Linked DNA regions of Homo sapiens. The protein of the gene in region 6 interacts with the protein of the main gene of each other region in a pairwise test. Each region holds a gene or a part of one and is shown on either strand. Other genes may lie near its edges. The genes, in order: ETS2, ATXN3, ISY1, CSNK1D, SERBP1, TGFBR2 and ITGAV.

Evidence for each region.
Region 1: the proteins of TGFBR2 (region 6) and ETS2 interact in binary tests that used the Homo sapiens proteins (3 or more experiments, as listed by UniProt).
Region 2: the proteins of TGFBR2 (region 6) and ATXN3 interact in binary tests that used the Homo sapiens proteins (3 or more experiments, as listed by UniProt).
Region 3: the proteins of TGFBR2 (region 6) and ISY1 interact in binary tests that used the Homo sapiens proteins (3 or more experiments, as listed by UniProt).
Region 4: the proteins of TGFBR2 (region 6) and CSNK1D interact in binary tests that used the Homo sapiens proteins (3 or more experiments, as listed by UniProt).
Region 5: the proteins of TGFBR2 (region 6) and SERBP1 interact in binary tests that used the Homo sapiens proteins (3 or more experiments, as listed by UniProt).
Region 7: the proteins of TGFBR2 (region 6) and ITGAV interact in binary tests that used the Homo sapiens proteins (3 or more experiments, as listed by UniProt).

Annotation. Positions count from the first base shown.
Region 1 is NC_000021.9:38,815,929-38,820,278, reverse strand, and holds part of ETS2 (protein C-ets-2), read right to left. Parts: intron 3,272-4,350; coding exon 3,188-3,271; intron 1,855-3,187; coding exon 1,633-1,854; intron 777-1,632; coding exon 513-776; intron 1-512. UniProt on the Homo sapiens protein: Transcription factor activating transcription. Binds specifically the DNA GGAA/T core motif (Ets-binding site or EBS) in gene promoters and stimulates transcription.
Region 2 is NC_000014.9:92,086,083-92,089,582, forward strand, and holds part of ATXN3 (ataxin-3 reference isoform), read right to left. Parts: intron 2,736-3,500; coding exon 2,648-2,735; intron 1-2,647. UniProt on the Homo sapiens protein: Deubiquitinating enzyme involved in protein homeostasis maintenance, transcription, cytoskeleton regulation, myogenesis and degradation of misfolded chaperone substrates.
Region 3 is NC_000003.12:129,129,717-129,134,066, forward strand, and holds part of ISY1 (pre-mRNA-splicing factor ISY1 homolog), read right to left. Parts: intron 921-4,350; coding exon 834-920; intron 473-833; coding exon 365-472; 3' UTR 1-364. Other genes in the region: ISY1-RAB43 protein, read right to left, coding at 372-472, 834-920. UniProt on the Homo sapiens protein: Component of the spliceosome C complex required for the selective processing of microRNAs during embryonic stem cell differentiation. Required for the biogenesis of all miRNAs from the pri-miR-17-92 primary transcript except miR-92a.
Region 4 is NC_000017.11:82,242,188-82,246,537, forward strand, and holds the end of CSNK1D (casein kinase I isoform delta), read right to left. Parts: exon of another isoform or gene 4,285-4,350; intron 4,279-4,284; coding exon of another isoform or gene 4,177-4,278; exon of another isoform or gene 4,011-4,176; intron 3,853-4,010; coding exon of another isoform or gene 3,820-3,852; exon of another isoform or gene 3,789-3,819; intron 2,645-3,788; coding exon 2,594-2,644; 3' UTR 480-2,593; downstream 1-479. UniProt on the Homo sapiens protein: Essential serine/threonine-protein kinase that regulates diverse cellular growth and survival processes including Wnt signaling, DNA repair and circadian rhythms. It can phosphorylate a large number of proteins.
Region 5 is NC_000001.11:67,423,584-67,427,933, forward strand, and holds part of SERBP1 (SERPINE1 mRNA-binding protein 1), read right to left. Parts: intron 2,703-4,350; coding exon 2,552-2,702; intron 1,641-2,551; coding exon 1,500-1,640; intron 1,395-1,499; coding exon 1,305-1,394; intron 740-1,304; coding exon of another isoform or gene 695-739; coding exon 617-694; intron 1-616. UniProt on the Homo sapiens protein: Ribosome-binding protein that promotes ribosome hibernation, a process during which ribosomes are stabilized in an inactive state and preserved from proteasomal degradation.
Region 6 is NC_000003.12:30,668,739-30,673,088, reverse strand, and holds part of TGFBR2 (TGF-beta receptor type-2 isoform B precursor), read right to left. Parts: intron 1,452-4,350; coding exon 652-1,451; intron 1-651. UniProt on the Homo sapiens protein: Transmembrane serine/threonine kinase forming with the TGF-beta type I serine/threonine kinase receptor, TGFBR1, the non-promiscuous receptor for the TGF-beta cytokines TGFB1, TGFB2 and TGFB3.
Region 7 is NC_000002.12:186,592,583-186,596,932, reverse strand, and holds part of ITGAV (integrin alpha-V isoform 1 preproprotein), read right to left. Parts: intron 1-4,350.

The DNA.
Region 1 (4,350 bases), on a different chromosome or scaffold from region 6:
TTTTCGCTAAAGTACTGGAAATACCTGTTTCTAAAAACAGCTTTATATTTGTCCACTGCCTAGAATAGCTCTCACCCAAACCTCAAAAATAAGAGCAGATAGATTTTAGAAGCAAGAAAAGGTAAACAGTGCCCATATTATTTGAGACTGGCTCTGCTGCCCCTCCCTAAGCCAGTTTACATTCTTTGAGATTCTTGGAGTGGGTGAGTCAGGGCTGAAGACTGCACAGGCCATGTCCCCTGCTCCAACTATTCCTCAGAACGTCCCAGGTGGAGGGAGTGGCCTGTCAATTTTCACTCATTCCATGGAGCTCTGTGTACATGAAAATTCCTCCAAGTGTGGCTTTTGTCGAATTCAGAGATACAGCAAGCCACGCATAAAACATGGAGTGTAGAGCACTGGTGTACCTAGCTTAGAAACACCCTCGGTGAATGTGGTACTGTGGCTCGAAAGGAAGCAAGGGACAGGACCCAGGAGACTGGGCGGCCAGGCTCTCGGAGTTCCACACACACCTGTGAAGCCGGCCAGCACAGCTGCAGGTATAACTGGTTTGCCTTGCTCCACTGGGTCACTCCTCTCTTGGATGTAATCCTTGAAAGACATGGTTGGCTTATTGAGGCAGAGAGACTGGCTGCAGTCATCTTCGAAGCTCTCGAAGGAAGGAACCCGTTGCACATCCAGCAAGGACGACTGGCTGTTCCAGGACTGGAGGAGGGAGTCTGAGCTCTCGAAGCTGTCCGCACCGTTCTCAGGGGAGTCGTGGTCTTTGGGAGTCCCTGGCAAAGACAACCAAACACATACTTTGATTCCTCCAGGACACAGTTGGTCTTGGGCACGACCATAGCATCACCAACCACTACCAGTGCAATCATGCACCTGCTGGTGTAGAACCACTCAGACTTCTCAAAATGCTCTCTACTCAGGTGCTTATTCCTTAGGGTAACTATACTACACAAATCCTATCTTCCATCAACAGTAGAATGAATAAAATTCTTATAATGGAATACTATACAGCGATGAAAAAGAACACATGGCTGCTACATCCAACAACATGCATGAATCCCAGACATGATGAGTAAAAGACAAACACAAAAGAAAACATGCCTTATGATTCCATCTATGTAAAGTTCAAGAAAATCAAAACCTAATCCGTAATGATAAAAGTCAGAATCGTTCCCTTCTGTCGGGGGGACATTATTGATGGGAAGGGGTACGAAGGAATCTTCCAGGCTACTGGAAACTTCTCTATCTCCATCTGGATGGTTATTACATGGGTATACATACATACACAAATCCAACCAGCCACATGACCTGAGACTTGTGCACTGTATTTATGTTACATCTCCATAAGAAGAAATGTCACATTCCTGCATCGCCTCCATAAATATCCCAAAGTGTGGAGAAATCTGGCTGTAAGAGCAGGGACTGTTTTGTTTACTCAATGCCTGCAGTACCTGGGCCAGTGCCTGAAACATATTAGGGGTATGCTTGTTGGAAATCCACTTAGAACATGGGCTTTGACCCCCTTCTCTAATGGCTGAATCCAGGAAGTATTTATTAAGAGGTTCATTATGGCTCTGGGGTTCTCAGAATCAAAGCAACAGCCTTGTTGAAAGATGCTTCCAATCTTACCAGAATTGTTGGTGAGCAAATTCAAGTTGCTGCCTGGGAAGTCCTGACTGACAGAGCAGTAGGTGACGCTGACGGAGCTGAGCCGAGACTTGGGGAACATCTGAAACTCCTGCTCAGAGCTGAGTACGCTGGGTGTGGAGGCCGGACACATGCTGTCCAGGAGGCCGCCTTTGGGGTAATTCTGTGTCTGCATTCCATAGGGCGCCTGCTCTGTGCCAAAACCTGGAACAGAACAATCGGACGGCAGAGCTCTTAAAGTCAGTGTTACCCCAGTAACTAACCCCTACGAGCAAATGACAGGTGAGCACTCCGCACACTCCAGCCCTCTGCAGAACCTCAGTGGAGACCCGGGCTTTGGTGGGGGTCTGTCACCAGGCCTTCTTCTCAAACCATTCAGCTTCTCAACCAGCAGCCCTCTGCCAAAATGACTGCAGCCTCTGCAGGCAGGACTCAATGTTCCTATTTCTACAACCCTAGTGCTTTCATGGGACCTTCAGGAAGACAGGGCTCACTGGCTCTTTTAGCTTCCGAGGAGAGTAAGGCTCAGACAGACCAAGTGACGTGTCATGTACTGTGTGATTCATAAGGGCAGAACCAGGCCATGAACCCTGTGTGCTGAGGCACAGCCCACTCTGCTTTCTGCTCCTTCATCACACCGCTCCTGTCTCTGTTCATTGCAGAATAATTTATTTTCTGGAGAGGGAAGGAAGCTCTCTGACTCTGATTCAGGTTCAGGCAGGCACAGGGTGTCCCACTGTCATGTTCAGAAAGACCTCCTGAGCAGGAAGCCCCCAGTGGGGCAGAGAGGTGGGCTTCACCGGGTCTGAATGGTGGAGCTGGGGCCAGAGAGAAAACACTGGGCCGGACCAACACCACCCAAGCCTGCTGTTCCGAGGACCCCTCCCTCGCTGGCCTGGCCAGACCCTGTGCCCTCCCCAGTATCAGCAACCAGAAGAAAGGACCCAGATTCCATGACAGCTCTTTAAGCTCCCAAGTTCAGAGCCAGTTTACAAATTGCTTTTCACGCACTCTGTGCCTGCCGCCTCTTGTTTGCTACACTAAACCAACATTACTGGTGACTGCGGTAATCAGCTCACTTCGTTCTGCTCCTTGCTCTAAGAATTGCCTGGACTAGCACTAACAGTGCTGACCTATGGAAGATCGTGTGAGCCACTTAAGCAACTGCGAAAGTTCTAGTGGCCATATTAAAAAAGCAAAAAGAAACAGGTGAAGTTAATTTTCTTATTTTACTTGGCCTCATATAGCAATTATCATTTCAATATGTAATCAATACATTAAAAATTATCAGGGAGACATTTTATATTCTCTGTTTCATACTAAGACTTCCAAATCTGGTGTGCATGACTATACTCTTCCTACACATCTCGATGTGGACCAGTCACATTTCAATGGCTTATAGCTCAACACCCACGTGTGGCCACCATAAGAGACACACAGGTCTAGGTGGCCCCTTAGGAGCCTACAGTAGAGAGATTCCAAGTCTACTGGGAAGACTGAAGACAAAGTTCTTAAGGGCAGAATCAATCGGACTGACCTAATGTATTGCTGTTAATCCAATGAGGAACGGAGGTGAGGTGTGAATTTTCTTCATATTGATCTTCTGTCTTTTCTTGGTTTTCTGAAAAGCAGACACAGGAGACGTAAGATGGCAGATGTAGGTGAAAACTACACAGAACAAATTGACTTTCTGAATTCCTGTGAGATGATAATTTTAGAATGATGAGATGCACGGAGTGCTTCACATTTAATCTCATGGTGCTCCACGTCCCTGCCTGTCTTTTTCAAAAAACGAGAGAAAGCAACCCATTTTTCCAATTACTAAAATAAATTTTCCAAAATGAATGATGTCATTGGCAACACTAAATTTTCTATCGCAAAAGGTCCAGATGGTGTATTGAATTCATTCATGCATTCAAGAAACAGTTAAGTATTTATGAAATGCCATCTGTACCAGAGGCTGCATACAGGAAATTAATAAAATGGATGGTGTCTGCCCCCGTGAAGCTTACAGTTCCACTGCTTCCAAACCTGCACGCTTCCCCAGGGTGTGGGAAGTCTCCAGGGCTGTGGGAGTCTGGGATGGGGAACACATGTGCCCAAGAACTTTGAAAGGGAAAAGGTTTGTGCACTGTGTATGCATACTTACTACGAATATATTACAAAGTGCACGTCCACCCGGAAACCCAAATACACACAAACTCACAGGCCCGAGGAATGGTAAAACAGGCCCAATTTGCCAATAAACAGATCACCAGAAACTTGGTAGAAAAGCCCTGTCCAAGTTCAGAAGAAATGAGGGTCTTTAAAAATGAGTTTCCCTGGCCCTCAGACGCCGTAACTAAAAAAAGTTAGCTGTTGAATCCTAGGTGTTTTCGAGATTCTGAGTCTACAGTTGATGCTGAAATTCAGTGTGTTTAAAATCAGTCAGGTGAGGACTAGTTCCCTGAATTCTATAAACATGCTTATTTTCTTATATTTTTTTAACCTAAATAATCCCTACTGTATTTTATTTCTTTCCCTCCCTCCCTCCCTCCCTCCCTCCCCTCCCTCCCTCCCTCCCTCCCTCCCCTCCCTCCCTCCCTCTTTCTTTCCTTCCTTCCTTCCCTCCCTCCCTCCTTCCTTCCTTCCTTCCTTCCTTCCTTCCTTCCTTCCTTCCTTCCTTCCTTCCTTCCTTCCTTCCTTCCTTCCTTTCAACAG
Region 2 (3,500 bases), on a different chromosome or scaffold from region 6:
CCAGCACTCAAATTGTGATCTCCAAATACCATTACTAAAAGATGGCTAGGCAAGGTGACTCACGCCTGTAATCCCAGCACTTTGGGAGGCTGAGGCAGGTGGATCACTCGAGGCCAGGAATTCGAGACCAACCTGGCCAATATGGTGAAACCCTGTCTCTACTAAAAATACAAAAAAAAAAAAAAAAAATTTAGCCGGGGCCAGGCGCAGTGGCTCATGCCTGTAATCCCAGCACTTTAGGGGGCCGAGGTGGGCGGCTCACCTGAGGTCAGGAGTTGGAGACCAGCCTAACAAACATGGAGAAACCCCTTCCATCTCTACTAAAATACAAAATTAGCCAGGCATGGTGGCACATGCCTGTAAATCCAGCTACTCGGGAGGCTGAGGCAAGAAAATCGCTTGAACCCAGGAGGCAGAAGTTACGGTGAGCCGAGATCACGCCATTGCACTCCAGCCGGAGCAACAAGAGGGAAACTCCATCTCAAAAAAAAAAAAAAAAAATTAGCCGGTCATGGTGGTGCACGCCTGTAATCCCAGCTACTCGGGAGGTTGAGGCAGGAGAATCGCTTGAACCCAGGAGGCAGAGTTCAAGAAAAGGAGAAGGCACACTAGAGACAATCCTAAGGAAAAAATAAAAATGGGGAGGCAGCTGGAGTTTCATGGAATTAAGAGAGGATTTTTATTTTTAATCAATGGAAATAAAAAGCTTATTTTACTGCTTATAGGAATATTACAAAAAAAGGGGGGGGGAACTGATTATATAAGAGAGTGGAGAGATGAAAGCAGGAACATCTTGAGTAGGTGAGAAGAGCTGGGATCCAGCCCACAAGTGAGGGACTGGTTTTGGTTAGAGGTAGGGGACCATTCATCTATTTAAATAGGCTCAAAGCACAGGTGAAGATATAAGCAAATTGATAAATTTGCTGGTAGAAAGAACATAATTTTAATTGCTTCTATGTTCTCAGCAGAATGTAACGGAAAGCCACAAGGAAGGTGTGTAAGGGAGAGGAAAGTGCTTAAAGGTTTAAAGACATAAGCTGTGAAATTAGTCACCTTGGAGGGTGGCACATTATTTTTTATAAACTTCTTGGAGAGTGGTACATAATTTTTTATAAACACCTTGGAGGGTGGTACATCACTAAGAAAACATAGTAGAAATATCAGACAGCACTAAAGGCTCATCTGAATTTTGTGATTATAATAAATTTAAAGTAAAACCTTAGCTAGGTGTGGTAGCACAAGCCTGTAGTCCCAGCTACTCAACAGGCTAAGGCAAGAGAATCACTTGAGCCCAGGAGTTTGGAGCTGCAATGAGCTGTGATTATGCTGCTGCACTCCAGCCTGGGCTTCAGAAATAGGCCTAGTCACTTTGATAGATGGATGGGTGAATGGATGGATAGATCATTTAAGAAAAAAGTAAAACCAATCATCATGTTTTATGTTATTTTTTAGCCACGTCCAGCTACTCTGGTACAGGAATGGACAAGGCCAAGATGTGGTTTAACCAGGGTTGAGATTTTTGTCATTCAAGTATGATGGAGGGAGAGAGGGGAAACACGTTGAAGAATGCAATGGAGTGATTATGATGACGGATTACAGAAAATAAGCAGTAGAAGAAAGGAAGAATGCGTATAAAGGAAATGCTTGGGCCCCACAGTAGGGTTTAAAGAATGGCTGGAATAAAAAAACAGACAAAACATGGTTTAAAGATAGGAGGTGGTAGTTAAAGAGTAATATGCTTGCAATTGAGATTTGACAGTGGTTATGATTACTGGTAATAGCTAAGCAAGAGTAAGTGATTTTGAAACTAAGAGGCAGGTACTGGATTGATTGACGATACAGAAATAATTAAGAATGATAAAAGTAGTTGAAGTAGAGAAAAAGACAACGAGTCAGATCCTAAAATCACTGATGAAAAGAGACTTGTGGATGAGTGCAAAAGGACAAGGGATAGTTTAATCTAGGGGCATGTATTTCTTTTTTTTTTCTTTTCTTTTTTTTTTTGAGACGGAGTCTCGCTCTGTCGCCCAGGCTGGAGGGCAGTGGCGCGATCTCAGCTCACTGCAAGCTCCGCCTCCTGGGTTCACGCCATTCTCCTGCCTCAGCCTCCCGAGTAGCTCGGACTACAGGCGTCCGCCACCACACCCCGGCTAATTTTTTGTTATTTTTAGTAGAGACAGGATTTCACCGTGTTAGCCAGGATGGTCTCGATCTCCTGACATCGTGATCCGCCTGCCTCAGCCTCCCAAAGTGCTGGGATTACAGGCGTGAGCCACCGTGCCCAGCCGTTAGGGGCATGTATTTCAAAGAAACTGGAGTTTATAAGGAAGAACAGTGGCCTAGAAGAGGCAAAGAAGAAAAACATCTATCCCTCCTCTCAGCCGTGTGATATGTGATGTATAAAAGAAAAAGCCATTACTTAGAAGGGCTGCAAAGAAAGCAGCATCCTCAGAAGAGGAAGGGCCAGGTGTCAGTGAGAACTCTAACTGAACAGCGTCACCCAAATCACAGCCTATCACCACGTCAAAACTAAAGATTGTTTCACTGCCACTGCCAGAAAAACAGTTTTATCACACTGTCATCTAATGTGCCTGGTTATTTAACTACTTCGAAAGGTAACATTACAAAATGTTCAGCCGTTACTTACCTTCCTGTTGTAATTGAGCCAAGAAAAGTGCAAGATATGTATCTGATATTAATTCTGGACCCGTCAAGAGAGAATTCAAGTTAAACCACTGGAAAAAAATTGTCAATATTTAAGTTAGTGTATATTATAGGTAATAAGGAAGTTTCACATGTTAAGAATAGATACAACCCATCAAAGCTTAGTAAGATTGTTTAAACTCTGGAAATATTTCAAGTTGAGCTCTTTTCTTTGACTGAATAATATGATCTTAAAAACTACAAGAGAATACTGCAGATTTATCACTATTAAATACTTTTTTTTTTTTTTGAGAAGAGTCTCACTCTGTAACCCAGGCTGGAGTGCAGTGGCATGATCTCGGATCACTGCAACCTCTGCCTCCCAGGTTCAAGTGATTCTCCTGCCTCAGCCTCCCAAGTAGCTGGGACTACAGGTCTGCACCACCACACCCAGCTAATTTTTGTATTTTTAGTTAGAGACAGCACATTTGCCACATTGGCCAGGCTGGTCTCAAACTCCTGACCTCAAATGATCCGCCCGCCTCAGCCTCCCAAAGTTCTGGGATTACAAACATGAGCCACTGCACCTGGCCTCTGCTAAATACTCTTTTTTTTTTTTTTTTTTTTTTTTTAGACAGAGTATTGCTCTGTCGCCCAGGCTGGAGTGCAGTGGCGCGATCTCGGCTCACTGCAAGCTCCGCCTCCCGGGTTCATGCCATCCTCCTGCCTCAGCCTCCCGAGTAGCTGGGACTACAGGCGCACGCCGCCACACCCAGCTATTTTTTTGTATTTTTAGTAGAGACAGGGTTTCACCATGTTAGCCAGGATGGTCTTGATCTCTTGACCTTGTGATCCGC
Region 3 (4,350 bases), about 98 Mb from region 6:
CATTTTTTAAAATTATACTTTGGTCTGCAAAAAATTGCATTTTTAAATGTTTGCCACTAATTGATTCTTCTCCCCTCAAAATGGCAGTGCAAGTCAAAATAAGACACAGGCAGCCAGTTCGCAACCTGTTGTATACACTCCACAATAAAAATAAATGGATCCACACAGTAGCAAAATATGTGTACAAAACCTACCAGGAAGACCAGGGACAGACCCCTACCCTCCGGTCAACATGAGACAAGGAGAGGGAAGGAAGGCTGAGAATGGGGCAGGAGCCCTTGCAGCACCAGCCTGTGTCTGCAGCCCTGGGTCCTGAGGTACCACTGGGGGATGGAAGAACTCCAAGGAGAGCCCCAGCTGGGTCCTAATACCCCAGGAGCCTTCTGGCTTCTTCACTTTGGGCCTGCAGGGTCTCGCTTGCATACTTCTGGAGGAGTTCCATTTTCTTCCTTCGCACCAGTGCCTCCTCAATCTGTGGAAATTAAGAGTGCAGGGCTCACTCCTCAGCAAAGCCCCTCAACCCCTGCCAGACCCAGCCAGGAGGAAGTCCCCGTGGGAGAAGTCCATCAAGGAGTCTGATTTAAATACGCAGAATAGTCTCCAAGAGTCCTAACTCCCTCCCATTGGAAACATTTGAACGATAGAATGGCCTAGAGCAGAGGGTCCTGCCCTTTTTGGACCCCACACCCTGAACACAATGACAGGTGTCATGTGGTCAGGACCCTGAGCTGCCCTGATGGGTAGGAAGGACAACGAAAACCCACTACAGTGCTCTGTGAAGTCTGCTTTAGAGAAGCCCCCGGCGCCCAGGCAGCTCTTAGCTGTGGTCCTACCTCTTGCTGCGAGGGAACAGGGACGTGAGCAATGAACTTCTGCTGGCTGTCGTCCCCTCCTTTCTCCTGGCTGCCTTCCTCGTCCGACTACAAACAGAACAAACGAAAGTCCATCAGTAGGCGCCCAGCTAGATAAATGCTGGCAACTCTATAAAACACACTACTCTGCAACTATTTAAAAGAAAAAAAAACTAAGAAAGTTCTATACTTATAGAAAGACACTTGACCCACAAGATTAAGTAAAAAAAGCCATAGAACACGCTGTATATTATGCTACCTTTTGTCTAAGGAGGAAATAAGAATAGAAATTACTGACGGCAGTGAGACCAAGGTAGATGAGGGACAGGGTGAGGAAAGAGAATCTTTGTGGAATATCTTTATATTCTTTTTCACTTTTGAACCTTGTGAATGTATCACTATTTTAAAAAATTTAAATGTAAAAGAATGTACCATGCATAGAAAAATAATCAGCTCAGAGGTTGCCTATGAGTCAATACAAATTTCTAATAACAAAGAAAACACCACGGACTTGGAAAGAGAGAAGGGGTCTTGTGGCGAGTCAGGAGTCCACTGTTTGCTGGGCTCTGCCAGACACCGTGCACGACCCATTCCCTGACTGGCTCCCAGTGGGGATGGCTTCAAAAGCCTCTTGAGGAACCTCTCATCCACTGCTGGCACTTGGAGAAACTGGTTGTATCTAACACTAAACACATACCTACCCTGATCTGGTGGTTCCACTCCTCAGCATGTACTCAAGAGAAACACTGCACGGGAACAAGAAAATTCCCAGCAACCCTATCTGCCAAAACCCCAATCTGGACACAACACAAATACCCACAAACATTAGACACAAAAGAGTACACACGACTCACATATGTAAAGTTCAGACACAAGTGAAATATATGGGTCACAAGAGGTCAGGAGGGTGACCCCTGAGGCAGTAGTGAGCTTCTGGCGCTGTGGTCCTGTTCTGTTTCTTCACTGGTATTTGCTATGTGTGTGTGTGTTCACCCTGTGAAAATCCAGTGACCTACACATTTAGCAGGTGTGTACTTTTCTGTATATGGAACAACACTCAGCAGTGAAAAGGAATGAACTATTGAACTCAACAACCAGAGGGATGGCAAGGGCATCATGTTAAGTGTCAAGGCCATCGTGAAAGGTGACTCACAGCATGATCCCATTTATAAAACATTCTGAAATGACAAAATCAGAGATGGAGAACAGGTTAGGGTTCAGCTAGGAGAAGAGATGGTGAGGACAGGGAGGTGTGAACTGTGAAGGGGTGGCACCAGGGATCTTTGTAGTAAGGGGACAGTTCCCAGGCTGGAGTGCAGTGGTGCAATCACAGCTCACTGTAATCTGAACCCCCTGAGCTCAAGCAATTCTCACACCTCAGCCTCCTGAGTAGCTGGGACTATAGGCATGTCCAACCACACCTAGCTAATTGTTTTTATTTTTGGTAGAAACAGGGCCTCATTGTGTTGCCAGACTGGTCTTGAACTCCTGAGTTCAAGCAATCCTCCCACCTCAGCCTCCCAAAGTATTAGGATTACAGGTGTGACCACCACCCCCGGCCAGTTCTGTATCTGGATTGTCATGATGGCCACATGGATCTCCACACATGGAGACAAATGACACAGAACTCCACACACTCAATATGCCAATGTCAACCTCCCAGTTTTACTACTGTGCTAGAACTACATGAGATACAACCACTGGGGGGAACTGGGTGAAGCATACACAAGATCTCTCTGTACTCTTTGCAACTTCCTGTATCTCTATAATTATTTGAAAAGAAAAAAAAATTCTGCTGTGGGTTTCCACTGCTCTTCCCCACAACGCCAGCTCCCCATCAGCCTCCACTCACACCCAGCACCCACTCTCTGCACTCCAGCACACTGGGCTGTCCTTTGTCTCTCACACTCATCACAGGATCTCTCAGCACATGATGCGCCCCTGCTGGGAGCCCTCTCTCATCTCCTCCTTCCTTGGTTAAGTTCGCTGGATCATCCTAATCTCAGCTGAGGGTTTAGCTTCCCAGCAGAGTGTCTGCAGGCTGTCCCTGCACCAGGCTCTATTGAGGGACTGTTGCTCACTGTCTCTCTTACTGGACTGCCTCCCCCTGGACTATGAGCTACACTCCAAGCCTCTGTACCACCATGCCCCTGCACCTGGAATGCGGCTGGCTCACAGGAGCCATGAATTAAACACCTGCTGAGAGAGCAAATGAATATTTGTACCTAGAGGAAATCCTCCTAAGGCATGCTGCCATCCTGCTTCAGACCTGCACTGAACCCCAGTGCTGGCCCAGCTGGACATGAGCAGGAACGTCAGGCCTGTTATATCCCATGTGACATTAAGTCACTAAACCTGAGCCTGCTTCTTCACCAGTGATGTCTCAGCAAGCTCCTCATGTGGAACCTGAGCCATCATCCATGTGTGGGTGATCCCCTCCCTTCTCTCAGTCCAGCAAATCAGATCCACCTAGACCTGTGCAGGCAGCAAGGACTCCAAATATAGGGCCCCGCAGAAGAGCTCTGCCTGGGAGGCAGAGATTTCAAATGTTGAATTTTCCTTGTTTCAGAATACCTCCTTTAATGCAGTGAAGTTTTGGTAATGTTTCATAGAAAAAATAAAAGGTGTAGCACAGACAGATATGTCAAGATTACTTACATGGTGGCTATAATAAAAAGTAATAACTAAGATATATAATGAGTATTTCCTATAAATCAGAAAATATGCAAAAGATCAGAAAATATGCAAAAGGTCTGAAAATATGCAAAGATTCCCCAACCATGACCCTCTAAGAAAGTTTCTTCTCTGCTCTGCGTTTCTTTCCATGTGTAAGACAGGGGTGTTAGGGCTGGGAGCAATGGTTCACACCTGTCATCCCAGCACTTTGGGAGGCCAAGGCAGGTGGATCACAAGGTCAGGAGTTCGAGACCAGCCTGGCCAATATGGTGAAACCCCGTCTCTACTAAAAATACAAAAATTAGCCATGCGTGGTGGCACTCGCCTGTAGTCCCAGCTACTTGGGAGGTTGAGGCAGAAGAATTGCTTGAACCCGGAAGGCAGAGGTTGCAGTGAGCCAAGATTGTGCCACTGCACTCCAGCCTGGGCAACAGAGCCAGATTCCGTTTCAAAAAAAATAAAAAAGATGGGGGTGTTAGACTACAGAAGAGCAACTGCCACTGACACGTGAACAGAAGTGATGAGGTCATGGGCTAAAGCTCATGGCTTCCTCTGTGTTTATCAGTCTAATTCTAGTGTATGCAGAAGGGCCTGTCTTTAAGAAGGAAAGAAGGAAGCCCTGGTGTAAAGCACGGCCGGCAGGGCACTCTCATGGCTGCTGCCTCCTGAAACCCTCCTGTAATCTCGCAAGTGTTTTCACAGCCATCCTGCAGGTGAGCAAGCTGGGCTGTGAACCCTGACTCTGTATTTGGGAGCCAAGTTTCCTCCCTGCCACACTTCATGGCTTGGAACAGATGGCAGTGAGTGCCAGAGGGGGCCAACC
Region 4 (4,350 bases), on a different chromosome or scaffold from region 6:
GATAGGGGCCACTGCTGTGTGCTCTGGGGGGGGGGGGAAGAGGAACCCTATCTCCTTGTGCCTGTGCAGGGCCATCGGGCAGCTCCTGGGCTTCAACAGCTCAAGCGACAGGGGGATCCCTGAGCACCACGGCCCTATGGCAGGGGGAAGGGACATGCGCTCACCCCAGGCGGCTGGAGTGCGGCTGCCGGTGCCGCCCGAGAAGGCAGGGACTCTCCAGAACCGTCACACAGAAAGTGCGTGGACTTCTGTGTGCACAACAGAGCCCAAGGGGGCAGCACGGCGAGGAGCAGTCGCCACCCCTCCCTGCCCGGCAGCAGGCCCAGGGGGCAGCTCTCCTGCTCTGCCAGCTCCCAGACACCCACAGGCTGAGAAAGAACAAACAGCCATCTCAAAGAAGTATTTTCACACAGTTCACCTCAACACAGTGAAAACTCTCAAGCTGATGAAATAAAGACCACATGGAAAGGGGAGGGAAGAAAGGTAGAAGTCATTATGAATTTATTATTTACACGATTGTTAAAGTACACAAATACAGTGGCGATACAAACGCACAGCTCGGAGACTGGCCGTCAGTGCACAGCTGACACGACGTCCTACCTACGTCTCCTGCACGGGGCGACGGGGACTAGATACTGGGCAAGGACTGTCACAAGCACTCCGAAGACGCGACCCGGCGAGGCTCGGGCTGGAACCCGGGCGCAGAGCTGCCTCGCACAAACGTTCTGGGCACTACATCGGGACCACAGATATTTACAAAGCAAGCTTGCGCCACTTCAGGCCACAGCGCGACGTCTCTCCGGGTGGGGGACGTCTACCTTCAAGAAGGGGTCCAGCAACAAAGAAAATCTCTTAACTCGGCTCTGACCCACCCCAACCTCCCTCTGTACTTCAACACACAGCTCCCACCCGCTCAAGGCCCCGTACTCCAAAACGCTTACACAGTAACCAGCCTAGGATTGAGAAAGCATCCATGGGCTCAGGCAGACGGCCAGCCAGCTGGTGGGGGGGTGAACAACTGTGTTCTGGGACGCCAGCCAGTTATGGCATCCGGGGAACTCTGGGGAGGAGAAGGGAGAACCAAGGTGCACACCTTCGAAGCCCTAGAGTCCAAAGGGAACATCGTCCATCGTGATGGGGTCCAGCCGAAGTGCCCACGAACACAGACTGCCCTGCGCATTGGGGTTGGGAGCACATGGCCACTGGCTACCGCCCAAGTGCTGCGGAGTGAGAGGCGAGAAGGCATCCTGGGAACCTCAGGGCACAGCAGCATGGAGCCTGGGGCAGCACCAGCTCACGGAGGCCACCTGCCTTCTGGTGGGACTCGGCCCCACGCACGCTGCTTCACTTCTGACCAACAGACACGCGCCCAACAGAAGGTCACAGCGCAGACTCTACTTTCTGGCCGTGAAGGTTCTGGGTCCGGTTGGGAGAGTCACCTGCTCCTTGGCACCTCAGGGTGGGTCCTTCTGGCCTGCCGGCTTTTCTGAGCTAGTCTTGGCACGTGGCAAGGACAGCCCCGCTCCTGGTTTTAAGCACAGGCATTCATACAGACGGAGTGCCAATCCGCACAGGAGCATTGAGTGCTGAGAAAATGGACTGAGTGCAAAGGCAGCAAGGCAACAAACACTACAGTAACCACCTCTCGGTTCACAGTCCTCTCCCAAGGGACCAGAAACGCATCTTCCACCTTGAATCCTGGGACTCCCAATTGTCCTGCTAGGGTCTCAAAGCCTCTGCTTCCAAGCTCTCAGCTGCCTGCCCACCTCCTGGGGAAGAAGCGCGCAGTGCTTTGCCTGGTAACACCCACTGCACCCCTGCCCCGCGGCAGCCTGCGGTCCCTAACTGCTCTCCGAGGGCCTCAAGAGTTCCTGACAGCAGGCATGTCAATTACGGGAGGAGGGAGGGTGAGACGCCAAAATCAGGTTGAAGAGGTCCCACCACACACGGGCACACACACACACCACGGACTTTTGATGAGAAATCTCCTCTCCAAAGCGGACAATAAAACACTGCAAAACAAACACAGCACACACCCTTGAGATCCACCTGCACCTTCTCCCTGCCCGACTCCACCTCATACACTAACTCCAAGCCAGCCTGTCTCAGAATTCCTTAGTCAACATTTTTTTTGTAAGACTGCAAAAACAGACAAGAAACAATAAAAAGACAGATTTTCTTTACACAGATTTAAGCCAATAATTTTTAGCAAAATGATACAAAACTGTCTTAACCAAGTAGAAGATTGGTAGTTACAGTGGAATCGTCAGGGAGTACAGGGCGGCCACCACTGGAGGGAGCTGAGGCCCTGGAAAAGGAGTCTGATTCTCTGCAATTCTCTCTCTGCTTTTCTTCCCAGCCCCGTTACAACCGAGTTCACGTGGGGGGCCGCAGTGCAGCCCCAGCGGTGGCAGCTCTTGGAGTCTGTCCGTTTAGTATGTTTCCCCCACGAGCGTCGCTGGGTGAGTGGCCTGGAGAGCTCCCGGTGTTAACATTTCGATCCTAGACCGGGGGACGTGTCACTAGTAAAGCCATTGGTAACAGAGTAGATCAGCCATGCATTGTCTGCCCTTCACAGCAATAAGGAGAGTTCTCATCGGTGCACGACAGACTGAAGACCACTGGAAGCCACCCGACCAGGAATCTGTCGGAGCCAAAGCACAGGAGAAGGTCAGCATGGGGCTGGGGGAGCCGGCCAGGCAGATACCACAGTGACGGTGCTGGGCAGGGAGGGGACGCACCGCCACCGCCTAGCCCCAGTCTAGACGCCTGCGTCCCCCGCCACGCACAGGGGCCTCTGTGGCTGGGACACGTGCTCAGCAGAACGAGTGACAGGAAGACGGGAAGGAGGAAGAGGCATGCAAGCAAGGTGCCCGCGGAGCCGGGCTCGGCAGGGTCGAAGGATCCGAGTGGAGCGGAGACGGGTGCTCCTGCCTCCCTTCCTGGAAAGGAACCTGGTGTTTGAAAATGGGTACCCCTCTCAGGGAAGACATGAAAAGCAGTTCCTGTCAACACATTTCCAGAGTGTGCACAGTGTGAAAACTGCAGCGGGTCTCCCAGCGGCACAGACCCGACAGAAGCGCAAGCCCCTGCTGGAAGGAGCCGCCGAGCGCGCGTGGCCGCCGAGGAGGGAGCACAGCGTGGACGCCGGCCATGCACCGACGGCGGGGAGTGAGTGGGCTGCGGCTGGAGGAGTTAATACAGACGAAGCTGCGTGGACAAGACGGCTGGGCAGAGACCAAGTGTGAAAAGAAACACAAAACAAGGACAGAGATAAATGAGACAGGAAGAGAGAGGCGACTAGAAAAGCTGGCATGGCAGAGACTGCCCAGAGTGTGGCGCAGCAAGAGCTTAGGAGCCCCCAACACCAAGCGTGGAGCCACCCAGCTGAGCAGGACACAGACGCCCCTCCAGGCACGGCCGACCGCAGACAAGGCAACTCAAGTGCTCGGGGCACCCGCCTTGCCACTCCTGCCTCACGGGTGGGCACCCAGGACAGGAGGAGAGCAACGGCACACGGAACGCAGTCACGGGGAGGCCACAGGCCAACAGGATGGTCTCCTGGGGTCACTCTGTTCCAAAGCTCTCTGTGGACAGCCTCCCCCCAAGACTGGGCAGCGGACTGCCGCCGCTCTGCACCCCACAAGAAGAACAGAGCAGAAGAAGCCTCACTCTACCTCCAGCACCTGGCATGCAAGCCCAGCCCACCTGCAAGCTCCCATGGGTGGGGCATGGTGGCTCCCACCCACCTGGCGCTGCTGCCTGGCGCCCGCCACGCGCACACTCACCCAGTGCTGCCTTCCGATGGGAGACGAGCAGCTACTTGCCGTGGTGTTCGAAAGGAATGCTATTCTGAGGTGGGGAAAAGACAGCTGTTGGTAAGCGTCCCGCTGGCCCCCTGACTACCTGTGTCGGCTCCATGTCCAGATGGGCATCCTTGCCTCAACCAGGTCCACAGACCGACAGGTGCCACCTGGGGGAGCCCAGGCACAGAGCACAGCCTCACTTGCCTCTCAGGACGGGCCTCTGGATGAGAGTGGTGCCCACTCCTCTTCTGGAATCACTTGCTCTTAAGGCCAACAATGGCATGGGACAGGCCCTCCTGAGTCTTCTCAAGCACTAAGAAAACCTGATCCCAGCAGGATGGCAGGTGCTGGGCAGCCCCACAACTGGGTCTCAGGGCACAGCCTGAAGGCAGGGGAGACGCACATCCTCGCCGGTACGACGACAGGGCTCAGGCCTAGTCCTGGGCAGGAGTTGATCAAAGCGAGTCATCGACTGTTGGAATGACAAGGCCTTCTTCTCACCAAGTAAAAACCCCAAACAGACTCAGCAACTAGATGGCCTTTA
Region 5 (4,350 bases), on a different chromosome or scaffold from region 6:
GCAACAGAATGAAATCTTGTCTCAAAAAAAGAAAAAAAAAAAAAAAGATAGTGAATAACATACTCTGATCTTTGCTCTCTTCATACATTTAAAAACAGGCCAGTAATGCTATGTTCCAAATTCTACATTGGAAATAACTTCAAGATAGAACTAATGTTAAAATGGCCACATTTTCTAGTTTTAACTATCTCAAAGTAAAATTTGTACAGTTGTATGACAATGGTAAAATGACTAATCAAACAGAAATAACCACATTAAAATATTCTATTTTTCAAAGCGTTAGAGTCAAATATATACACATAAACCACTCTTTTAAGGGCTGGGTGCAGTGGCTCATGCCTGTAATCCCAGCACTTTGGGAGGCCAAGGCAGGAGGAACGCTTGAGCCCAGGAATTGGAGACCTGCCTAGGCAATATAGTGAGACCCTGTCTCTATTAAAAAAAGAAAAAAAAAGCATTCTTTCAAATACTCTTTGAGGGATGAGGGTACAGTAAGTCTCCCTTGTCAAAAACAAAAAGCCATCAAGTAACAGCATTAAATCTATGGGTTATCTTATTGGTAAAACTCCAGTGCTTTCAATTCTGGGTCATTACTATTACACGCAATACCACTTACTTATTTTCAGTGTCTGCCACTGGATGATGTTCTTCACCTTCAGGTGTTTCCTCAGTCACATTTGATTGATCCAAGTCACTGTAATTATAAGATATTTGTTTCTGAATGTATTTGGGGGACTCTCTAAGGAAAGAAAGAAAAAGAAAGGCATCTAGGTCCATTTACATGTAGCTGAAAAGTTCTTCATACAAAAATACCATAAGCTCTCACATTCTCTAACTCCTTTCTTACTAAATATACTCCCCAGAAGACGTCGAAAAGTAAACAATATAAACTAGTTAGTTCATATACTTCATACTTAAAAAGTAACAGAACAAGGCAGTTAATTATAAAATGAAGCTTTACTAGCTTATCAAATTTTGTAATGACAACAAAGTCAAAAGCTAGAATAGGAACTATTAAGGACACTAAGATAATCAGAATACCCAAATAACCTTATTGTGGGGTTTCAGGAAAAGCTACAAATACATATGGGGGGGAAAAAATGAGTAACAAATATATCGAAATATTAAAAAACCGGTCATTCAATATACTATAACCCAAACCCATCCCATAAGACATTATCTTGTAATATAGTAACTCTCAGAAGAGAGCATTCATTCTTATCTCAGAGACAAGTAAAATTTGACAGAGGTATGGATTAACCTCTAGTTAGGTATAGAATTTTTAAGAAAATCAGAATACCAACGTTAATTCGTCTTTGACAGTTCCCCAGTTGTGAGATCCGCTACCTCCACGTTTGTCCTCGTGCTTCAGGCCACTGTAATGTGAAAAAGAACTAACAAAACTGAGTTAACATAATACTCTTTAGTTCTAGAAATTCAAAGTTTGTTTATTAAATAGATTAAAATATTAAAGTAAAATAAAAACCAGTAAGACTTACGATCTATCACTTCCACTATGCCTATCAAATTCACGTTTGCCACGAGAATCAAATCCATCTCCTCGGCCCATTCCACGTCCACGGCCCCCTCGACCTCTTCCAAGACCACCACGACCTCGAATAGGTCGGTCAATAATCGGTCTATAATATAAACAAATAAATTATACTTCCATGGTTTCCAGAAGAAATGAGGAAAATTCATCCAAAAGATCAAAAATACAGAACATGTTTACTGGCTCAAAAACCAATAGTTAAATACATACACTTCAGAAAATTCAAAATAGTCTGTTTCTAAACACAAAGGAAACCAGAACAAGACAGCCTCCCAAAACAAGAAAACTATTTTAGCACTCTAAAGCATTACTACCAGTGCATATACTTTTCCACTGCTATTCATTGCACATATAATCCAGTCCATCACTATTTACCAATACACTTAAAAATTAAACACATCTAACTTGCATAAGTAATTTATTTGCTATAAACAATAAACCAACAGTATTTTCCTTCAACTAACAGTATTTTCCTTTTAACTCTGTATCTGGAGAGAGAAAGAAAAAGAAATTGGTTATCAATTCAACAAAGTGTTTCCATTACAAGAGACCTAAGTTTGAACTGTTACCCAAAGATCTAAAGCTTAACAATGCACACATACAGATGTTTCTGTGAAAAATTAATAGAAACAATTAGCCAGACTGCTACCTGGCAATTATGCCCAATTTATAGCTTAACATTAAAATGTGACTCTATAAAGTAACAAAATATGAAGACTTCTTTGGTTTACGCCTGTAATCCCAATATTGCAGGAGGACAGCTTGAGCACAGGAGCTCAAGACCAGCCAATGCAATATATATAGTGAGACCTCAGCTCTACAAAAAAAATTAGCAGTGTGGTGGCGTGACCTTGTAGTCCGAGCTACTCAAGAGGAGACTGAGATGAGAGGATCATTTGAGCCCAGGAAGCAGAGGCTGCAGTGAGCCAAGCTTGTACCACTGCACTCCAGCCTACATGTTAGACCAAGACCCTGGCTCAAAAACAAGAAACAACTTACCTATCAACTGAAAATTCGCCTCCTTCACCCTTTTCTTCAAGTGGCTTTTCGAATCTTCGTTCACGAGGTGGTCGCCTTTCTGGTCTTCTATCAATTATTTTCCCTTCACCCTGAAGTTGTTGATCAGGTCTTCTTCCAACTCGTCTTATTCCTAAAACGATAAGATAACCTGCATAAGCAAATTATTTTTGCAATCCAAAAACTTTAGGCCTGGACTGTCAAAAGCTGCTTCTCTTCCAATCCACTACCATTTCCTGTTGGAAAAAAGCAAACACTGGGCAACTCTAATGTGTAACAAAGTACCTTAGGAAAACTGCCATTTAAAGACAATAAACCTTCCAATCCATACCACCGACTAAATACATAAATAAATAAAATAAAAACAATAAACTTATTTTAAACTTCTATTTAAGTTTGCCAAGTTCTCCCCCTCAAAAGCATTTTCTATAACTGACTTGGAAATCATTTGGGCAACCATTATTCCCGTCACTTTCCAAGATAGTCTCTTAATAAAAACTTTTAAATTTAAAAAATTTTAGGCAAGCAATACATTTTGGCTTTTAAAATACCAAAGAAAATACCAGCAGCCATTCATAAATAACCAAGCAAATCAACACACTCACTAGATATGGCCCCTCACAAAAGTGAGGGCCGCACTATGTTATTCTATCTAATCTGAAAAAAAAATGCAATTAAGACTCATAATTCTATAAAATTACAAATCTGAAAGGAAAATATGGCATTTAGGATTATTAGAGAACATCACTTCAGTTTAAAACAGCCATTTAACCAGAAAAAGTGTCATCTTTTGGTCTTCTTAGCTACAGGCACACAAAAAGGGCCATCTTCCCCTATTAAAGTTTAAAATTTTATAGCATGTAAGTGTATATATGTTTGTACACACTCCCACATCCCTAAGTACTTCCAAGTTAGGAAACAGTTACTTATTATGCATGGAGAGAGTCCTCTAAAAAATTTGCCCTAACAACTATCTTTATTTTCAAAGAATCTTTAAAAACCAAATACACACACGTTAAGACCGCTTTTAAGCAACATGTAAGAAATAAGAAAACTTGTGACACTAAGTGATAGCTGAAGCATTTACTAATTTCCCCCTTTACTACTTTTTTCCTGTAATGTCTGAAACCCCACAAAGGCAACCAATTTAAATTATTGGTGCCCATAAGGATCAACAGATTGATGGTTAAATTAATGACTTTAAGATTGTTGGTATGCTCTAATTCCCAATTTCTGACAAAGTCATAAAGCAGCTGAGGAATTGGTTTTACAAGATTTTAAGCTGCTTCACTTTGGTTCTTTCTAAGAAAGTAGAACACCATCAAGACACACCCAGTTGTTCTGCTGCCTGTTAACTGGAGCCAAACAGTAACTATCAATCTCTTCAATAGAATTTTGAAGTTCATTCCCTGTAAATACTCAAGATAGACTACAAATATTAGACCTTACACCAAGGTATTTAAATAAATGTCATCAGTAATAAAGTGCACTGGGGTGGAGTTATGGAACCAGTCCTTGCAATAATATCCAAGCCAAACACACCCAAGTGAACAATAGTTGGCGTCCCCACCCAATATCAAGTTTACAGAATCTTAAAAACGTATTAAACCTACCTAATGAAAAAGACTGACATTTAAAAATGCAAGCTTCTTTTGATATACTTATCTATAACTTGCAAGCTCACTAACTGCACTAGTTTCAAGGCATTCATTCTTTTTTAGAAAATCCCTGGTCTACACTCTCAATGACATTCTGCTGTCAATTCTCAAGTTCTTCAAATG
Region 6 (4,350 bases):
CCATGGACTCCACTGTGTGAAAACACTGGGCTCATCATTTATAAGGGATGTTGTGGTGATTTCCAATCACCTTCCAATAGTTTCTTAGCCAAAAACATTTCCATTTTAATCTGTGAGAGTGCTTCAAGAGTGGAAGTGCTCACTCAGTCGACAAGTACTTATTTTACTTTCAATGTTCAAGGCATTGTGCTACATATCTTGGGTGACCATGTGGATGTAGATTTGGACTTCAGGGAGATTGCCTTCCACGATGCTTTTAATACAAAGAAACCAACACAACTACAGCTAGTATAGAGCAGAAAGGACTGAGTACAACCATAAGAGAGGGAAAAAATAGAGGTAAAGTACTAACAGTGCTTGAAACAAAGAAAAAACATTTGCTGGAAGAGAAATGAGGATTGATCCAGGAGGAAAAAATGTGCTGAACTGGGAAGGATTTGAAGATAGGAGGAGAAATGCTGTCCATTAGCAAAAATGCTCAGGCAGGACAGAGCAGAGTATGCTCAAGGCAGACTCCATACTTTGGCTAGATTCCCTAGACCAGTGTCCAGAGTACAGGGCTGTTTGAGATAAGAGCCAGGAGATATGGATCAAGAGGTAGGGTGAGGCCAGGCTCAAGGTAAAGGGGATCTAGCACTAGCTCTAACTTACCTGCCCACTGTTAGCCAGGTCATCCACAGACAGAGTAGGGTCCAGACGCAGGGAAAGCCCAAAGTCACACAGGCAGCAGGTTAGGTCGTTCTTCACGAGGATATTGGAGCTCTTGAGGTCCCTGTGCACGATGGGCATCTTGGGCCTCCCACATGGAGTGTGATCACTGTGGAGGTGAGCAATCCCCCGGGCGAGGGAGCTGCCCAGCTTGCGCAGGTCCTCCCAGCTGATGACATGCCGCGTCAGGTACTCCTGTAGGTTGCCCTTGGCGTGGAAGGCGGTGATCAGCCAGTATTGTTTCCCCAACTCCGTCTTCCGCTCCTCAGCCGTCAGGAACTGGAGTATGTTCTCATGCTTCAGATTGATGTCTGAGAAGATGTCCTTCTCTGTCTTCCAAGAGGCATACTCCTCATAGGGAAAGATCTTGACTGCCACTGTCTCAAACTGCTCTGAAGTGTTCTGCTTCAGCTTGGCCTTATAGACCTCAGCAAAGCGACCTTTCCCCACCAGGGTGTCCAGCTCAATGGGCAGCAGCTCTGTGTTGTGGTTGATGTTGTTGGCACACGTGGAGCTGATGTCAGAGCGGTCATCTTCCAGGATGATGGCACAGTGCTCGCTGAACTCCATGAGCTTCCGCGTCTTGCCGGTTTCCCAGGTTGAACTCAGCTTCTGCTGCCGGTTAACGCGGTAGCAGTAGAAGATGATGATGACAGATATGGCAACTCCCAGTGGTGGCAGGAGGCTGATGCCTGTCACTTGAAATATGACTAGCAACAAGTCAGGATTGCTGGTGTTATATTCTGATGGGGAAACAAAACAAGGAGAGAAGGAGTTGGATGTGGTAGGTAAGTACTGTCAGGAAGTGGGTTCATGCCTGAGCATCTATAGATTTTAGCATCTGCATAGTTTTTGTAGATACGATATTGTTAATTTTTATTTCAGGGATGCAAGTGCATGCTCGTTCAGCCTTCCCTGCCTCTGGCCATCTGTTCGTCATCCCCTGCTCTTCCTTCAAACTTCAGCTTAAATGTCACTGCTTAAGAGAGGCCTAGAAAAACTTGGAAAACTGTCTTATTTTATACATTTTCATAGCACCTTATACTTTTCCTAGGTAACAATTCAGTACAACTTAAACTAAATGAACTATGACTCTACCTCTTGATTTCACATCTGTCTTTCCCTACTCTTGCCATCCCCCACGGACAGGGAACTCCATGCTGGAAGGTACCATGTCTTCTTCACTACTGTAAACTGCACTTAGCACACAGCAGGTCCTCAATATTGCCAAATAAAAAGACAAACCATTTACTGAGTGTTATCTAAGCTCAGGACATTGGGAACATGAAAAAAAATGACACAGCTTCTGCCTTCAAAAAATCTGCATGTATGACATCTGGTAAAAACACAGAGCGTGCCACAGTTTGCACCAAAATCTTTGCTCTTTTTCAAACTCCAACTTGTTCTGCTCTGATCAGCATTCAGGCTACCCTGGGCCCATGGGTGACAGGGAGAGGAGTCCATGGAAAGGATCTCTTTGGACAGTTATCTTACATCCACCCAACATTCCTCTTTTCAGTGTGCATACGAATTGTAGTTTCATGGAACTGAAATATTTAATAGCAACAATGGAAACATGGCCGCAAAGGTAAAACAAGTTAAAAATGGAAATGCTGCAGTTTTTTGACTTGGAATTCTGAAGCAGGCCCCTGTGGGCTGACAAGGAGAGTCCTTAGCACCAGATATCTAACTATAATATCTTGTGCCTCAAACTTTGTTTCATGTGCTGGCCTTGTTGGCTCTGGTGAAATAGTTTTCCTTTTTGGAAGAAGGACATGAATAGAAACAGACAGTGGACAGGAGAGAGCAAAAGGCAGCTCTAGTTCACTGGGAGCTTGTGCTGGGCTGCTTTCATTGGGCAAACATGCAGAATTCTATTGCTTTATGTGTCATCCATCTGCCCTCCAAAGTACCCATTAATGAGCAGGCCTCATGCTCAGATCCTAGAATCATTCATTAAATATATCACTACTGAGTGTCTATGATGGGCATGGCACTGCCCTCAGAGAGTACCCAGTAGAGGACTTAGGGCATATATACAAGTAAGCAATATATGGCATCTGGGATAGGGGCTAAATGTACAATGTAATCTATATATTAGTGGAATGTGGAAAAGCTTAGAGAAACATGGAAGGCACAGTAGCAAAAAACTGCCTTTAAGTTGGTCTCTGAAGAATGGGAAAAGTCAGTGATGAGTGGAAAGAGTGCTATGTTAAGGAGAAAGAATATATGATCTACTTAAGGAAGAGCAATTATCCCATACTGACCACTCTGCACCTGCGGAATAGAAAGGAAAAAAATGGGTAGGTGGTATGGAACCAAACTCCGTGTCAGAAAAGGATCTTTTGATTATTCATTTGTCAGTTTTCACCTACAGTAGGTGTTTAAAGAGAAAAAAAAAAGTGATGAGAATATAGTCCAGGTAGAATGAGGATATAACCAAATTCTCTCAAGGGGAACCCATTACCTAAATGATACTGATAAAGGAGTTAAGAAGAAATTACTTGGGCAGATAGTAAGGGTATGGAAGTCCTCGGTAAGGTGTTTCTTTTTAATGAAAAGCAGCCCCAAATCATTTTCTAACAAAGAGCAGCCTGTAAAGTTGAGCTTCAGACATAGACAGGCAAGCTGGGAGCTTGCACGGGTGAATGCCAGCAGGAACTAAGGACATGTTCAAGATGGCAGCTCCATCTTCCCTTCTCTTTGTCAGCCATGTGTACAACAAAGAACAGACCAGATGGTGCTGATCAACTGGAAAGCCCATTTGCATAATAAGATTAGGGTGGGGTGACCAGTCTTCCCCATGCACTATGTAAACGTCATACCTGATTGAACCAATCTGTGAGCCCTATGTAAATCAGACACCGCCTCTTCAAACGGGACTATAAAATCCAGCACATTCACCACTGGCCCGTCCTTTCCGCTTGGAGACTCCTTTCTCTACAGAGAGAATTGTTTCTCTTTCTCTTCTCTTCTGCCTATTAAACCTCCACTCCTAAACTCCTCATGTGTGTTCATATCCTAAATTTTCCTGGCTCATGATGATGAACCCCAGGTTATATACCCCAGTCTACATAGCTACTTCAGCATCTGATACTTTCTTTTTTTTTTCTCGAGATGGAGTCTTGCTCTGTTACCCAGGCAGCAGTGCAATGGCACGATCTCTGCTCACTGCAACCTTGCCTCCTGGGTTCAAGCCATTCTCCTGCCTTAGCCTCTATGCCCAGCTTTTTTTTTTTTTTTTTTTTTTTTTTTTTTTGTATTTTTAGTGGAGACGGGGTTTCACCATGTTGGCCAGGCTGGTCTTGAACTCCTGACCTTGTGATCTGCCCGCCTTGGCCTCCAAAAGTGCTGGGATTACAGGCGTGAGCCACTGCGCTTGGCCCAGCATCTGAAACTTTCATCTAACGAAACAGTGAGAAATGAAGCTGGTACATATCCATTTTTAAGGTTTATGTGTAATATGATTACTTGTTCTTAAGGTAAGTCTGAGTGGAAATGCCAACTTCCACTGACTATATATTCTAGATGAAAATCTTGGGTCTAGTAACCAGAGAAGTAACCCCAAGATATCAGAATTCCAGCAACCAAGAGGGAAAAAAAAAATCACCATTTTTTGGAAAGATATATGAATGCATTTTA
Region 7 (4,350 bases), on a different chromosome or scaffold from region 6:
AAAAGCTGATGAAGTTTTTCATCCAAAATGCCATCTCGATATTAAAGTTATCATTAAGATATTTAAGTTTTTTAAAGAGAACAATGAAGAGATAGAGAAAGTAAAATGACCTTAGACATATGTTAAAGTCTTACGAGGAAGCTGTGTAGTGAAAAAGAAATACTTGCATAGAAAACTGGGTACAAGGTGATAAAAGATGCTATATAAAAAAATTAAGGAATAAAAAGCAACACAGGCCAGGCACGGTGGCTCATGCCTGTAATCCTAGCACTTTGGGAGGCCAAGGCAGGAGGATCACTTAAGGTCAGGGGTTCAAAACCAGCCTGGCCAACATGGTGAAACCCCATCTCTACTAAAAATACAAAAGTTAGCCAGAAATTGCTTGAATCCAGGAGGCGAAGGTTGCAGCAAGCCAAGATTGTGCCACTGCACTCTAGCCTGGGCAACAGAGCAAGACTCCATCTCAAAAAAAAAAAAAAAGCAACACATACTACAAAAAACAAAGTTAATAAAACACTCCATAAAAATAATTGTTACTTGAATTTCATCTAAGAATGACTAATGAAAGTGTACAACAGCTTAATTAGGGTAAGAGAACTGACAGACCAGAAAAAAAATGTTTGTGATCTAAGCAGCACTATCTAATGGAAACAGTTTGGAATTAAAATTTACAAACACTGCAAATCAATTGAAGCAGTAACTTTGAATCTCTGTTCCCTTCTATCGAATGGCAATAACAATGCCCACTGTAATTACTTTAAAAAGAAACTTTCTGAAGGTGATAATAAATAAATGCAAACTTAGAAAATCTGAAACACCACGAAAATACAAGATGATGGGATTTAATTATCATCTTCGTCCTGAAAACAATTGATGCCATTAATAAGTTATTCCCTAGAAGAGTAGAAAATGTAAAACTTAAATTCTGTCTTTAAAAGGGCTTTTCTTTCCTCAGTGTTTTCAAAGGGCCATTAATGGTCAAGTGATTAACTCAAATGAAGAAGAAAAAGAGAAAGAAGGGTAGAAAAGCCAGCTTAAACATTTCTTATCAATGGTGGCGAGGTGGGGAGAATACACAGGGTGAGGTAAGGTTGACAAGAGTTTTCACTGATTAGCAGTGTAAATCTGAAGCTGAGTGACTTAATTTCCTATGCCCGCAACTCTCTCCTGATAGACTCCATTTCCCTCCAAAAAGTATGTCCAAGAACATCATCAGAATCCCCATCCTCAACATTTTTTTTTTTAATGACTGGAAACACTGCCATTAAATAACTCTCTGGGACTTCAAAATTAAGGTTTACATCCATGCCAAGAAGTGCTAAAATATAAAGGATTGAGTTTGGGAGAGAGGACAGAAAGATGGATGGAAAGGAAGAAAAGAGATAGAGGAAAGGAAAAAGAGAGGAAGGACAAGAGACAGAAAAAGAAAAAAGAGAGAGCGATACAGAGGGAGAGGTATCAGAGGAGGCAGTGAGAGGGAGACAGACAAGAGGCTCAGAGGAACCAATCAGGAGGATGGCCTTTGGATGCACTCCCTATCCAAACTGTACTTGAAGGGCAGTTGATTCACGGAATGTGACCTTGACAACCAAGGAGGGGCAACCTGCCAAACAATGACAAGTCCATTTTTCAAACCCTCCAAATAAACTAACTTGTTTGTCTGCTTTCAGCACTGACCTTTCTAAGATAAAGCATGTTTAATATATTTAGCTGACTCTGAGTTGACCAATGAGCCTTCACCAAAAGGAACTTCTGAAAAACTATCATACATGTATATAGAAATAAATGTGTATGAAATAGTACTGAATGTTATTTCAAAGCTACAATTCCAGTTTCAGATTTACTTTTCATTTTTTAAAAAATGCTTTTTTGAATCAAAAGAAAAACAAAAATGCCAGTCAACAACTACTGTAAAACAGAAGCAGTAACTACAATTTCCACATATTTTCCCTTGTCTTTCATAATGCTCTATGAAACATCATATGTCCTTAATCAGAAGTAATATAGGATTTGCTTTCTAAATAACAAAATTATAGCCTAGTTTTATGTCCCCTAATATACATGTATATTATTTATGATGAGAAAAATCAGCCAATATAATCAGAGCTACTCTGAAGTTTATAAAAAATGAGCTGGCATCATTTTGTAAAGTGTTGTGAAAAGGGTTAAAATGGTAAGAGTAGAAATGGTACATGAAGTTTTAAAAATACACACAGGTTGGGACAGATTGCAAGTGACCTTAATCCATGTTAAGCGGTTTGGACTTTCTTGCTGGCAATGGAAGCTTTATTATGAAAATTTTTGCAACAGAATACCAGGATGAAAAAGGATGTTACAGAAAGATAAAATGAATAGAAACAGACAAGATGTTCTGCACGTTTAAGAGCCAAATGATGGGCAGAGGGATGGGGGAGGACCTGAGTGCCACTGACTATGCTTGTCATAACTACACTGAAATAAGGAGTAGAAAGCAGAGATGGAATCAAGAAAACCTTAAAAAGGAAGAATTTCTAGGAGCTTCTGCCTGTTGACTAATCACTGACTGATATTAAGGTGGTGAAGTAGGAGAAACACAGAAAAATAGAACATGAGAGGGAGGAATATGAAAGTATTTCCAAGGTGACAGAGAAAATGATGCCAGCATTAATAGAAACAGAGGTGCAACTAACATCTCTTGGTGAAGACTTTTTAGTCAAATTGAGTTAAGACAGGCTAGTCAACGAGAAATGATTCACAGGCCAGGCCACTGGAATATCAAGTCAGAGATCTACTTTTAGATTTAAGATACAGCCAGGGCAAGAGTTTTATTTAAAAGGCTTTCCAGATATTGCAAACATGAAGTTAGGACTGAGAACCATTGAAGGACCTTCTGCTTCTAAGGCATACACATCTACACATTGCCAACTGTAAGATAAGGCTCCATTAGCGTTTAATGGGGGGAAAGGCAAGAATCCAGTGTCATTCATTATAGCATTATTTTAAAATAAAGAAATACATAAAATGAGAACTGTATAACATATATTTGAAGAATGAATTTTAAAATTGTTCAGTTATTTTCTTTAAAAATTCAATATTTGAATTAATAAAAGTGGGATTTGAATTTTACACCCTGTCTTCGGATCCTTCCCTTCCTTACCCTCTACTCACACCAACCTACTCAAATAACTAGACTGCAAACGGTTCTGCCTCCATTTCCTCCTCATCTGTAAGAATGAGTATATCTGCTTCCCCTTACTTCCCCCCGGTGGTGTGGGCTATAGAATGAAATGAGATATAAGTGCTTAGCAAATTATAAAATATGTTTACCAAAATAAGATGTCATCATTATAATTAAACCTAGGATGTAATTTTTAATTTTTCCAATTAGTCTCCACAAGAAAAGTATGACTCTAATTATTAGCCTGCATACAATCTTTAAATTTTATGTAAGTTTTACAACATAGCATAAATAAATGCTTATAGAAAAAAAAACAGAATGCGAATGTTTTTTCATAATTTTGAAAATCACTATATTTGTGAATTTTTACTTCGAACCTGACTCATTTCTGGAGTGATTTTTTGAGGGGCCGCCTTAACATTTTGCTTAGTACTTTGTCCTTCCCTTTAATAAATATTGATTCATTAATTTTCACAACAAAACTATGAACTATGCAGATAATTCAATAATAATTTTCTATAAAGAGAAAAATTAGGCATAAAATAATTCTACAGCTTCCCCAAGGTATGTGGACACCAAAACTGGAAAAAGCAACAGGAGTGGACGTCACAACCACTGCTCCTCACAAATCCTTCTCCCCTCAGAAGAAAGGCGCTCTTGAATTGACAAATACTTTTTCATTATGTGGCTTTTTTTCTTTTAAAAGTTTATGGTAATACCAAATAACAATAAATCCAACTGGTAATATTGGAAATGGCATCCCAAGTACCTTGGATTCCAATGCTTGTTAAATTTAAAGTGCCCTTCTAGAAAATTCAGCAAAATTTTACATAAATTTTTGTTAAATCTGAAAAGCTCAGTAAGTAAAAACCTGTGTTTATATACGTTTTGTTTAAAAAGAAAAAAGAAAAAAATTCAAGGTTGGTTTCCATTTTTTAAGTTACCTATACCTAGAGCTCTGTAGTCTATCGGTAACAAAGTTGCTGATGAATATTTCAAAATATTATATGCAACCAAACCCAAGTTCAATTTTACTTTATCATTAAAGGTCTATGAGTGAAGTCATGTAAACCTGTGAGGTCATAACACATTCATTGATTATAATGACTGGCCAAAGATTAGTCACCCTGGTTTGTAATCAGCAGTAGCAAATATCATGAAGAGTTCAACATCACTGCATTTTTCATGGAAAA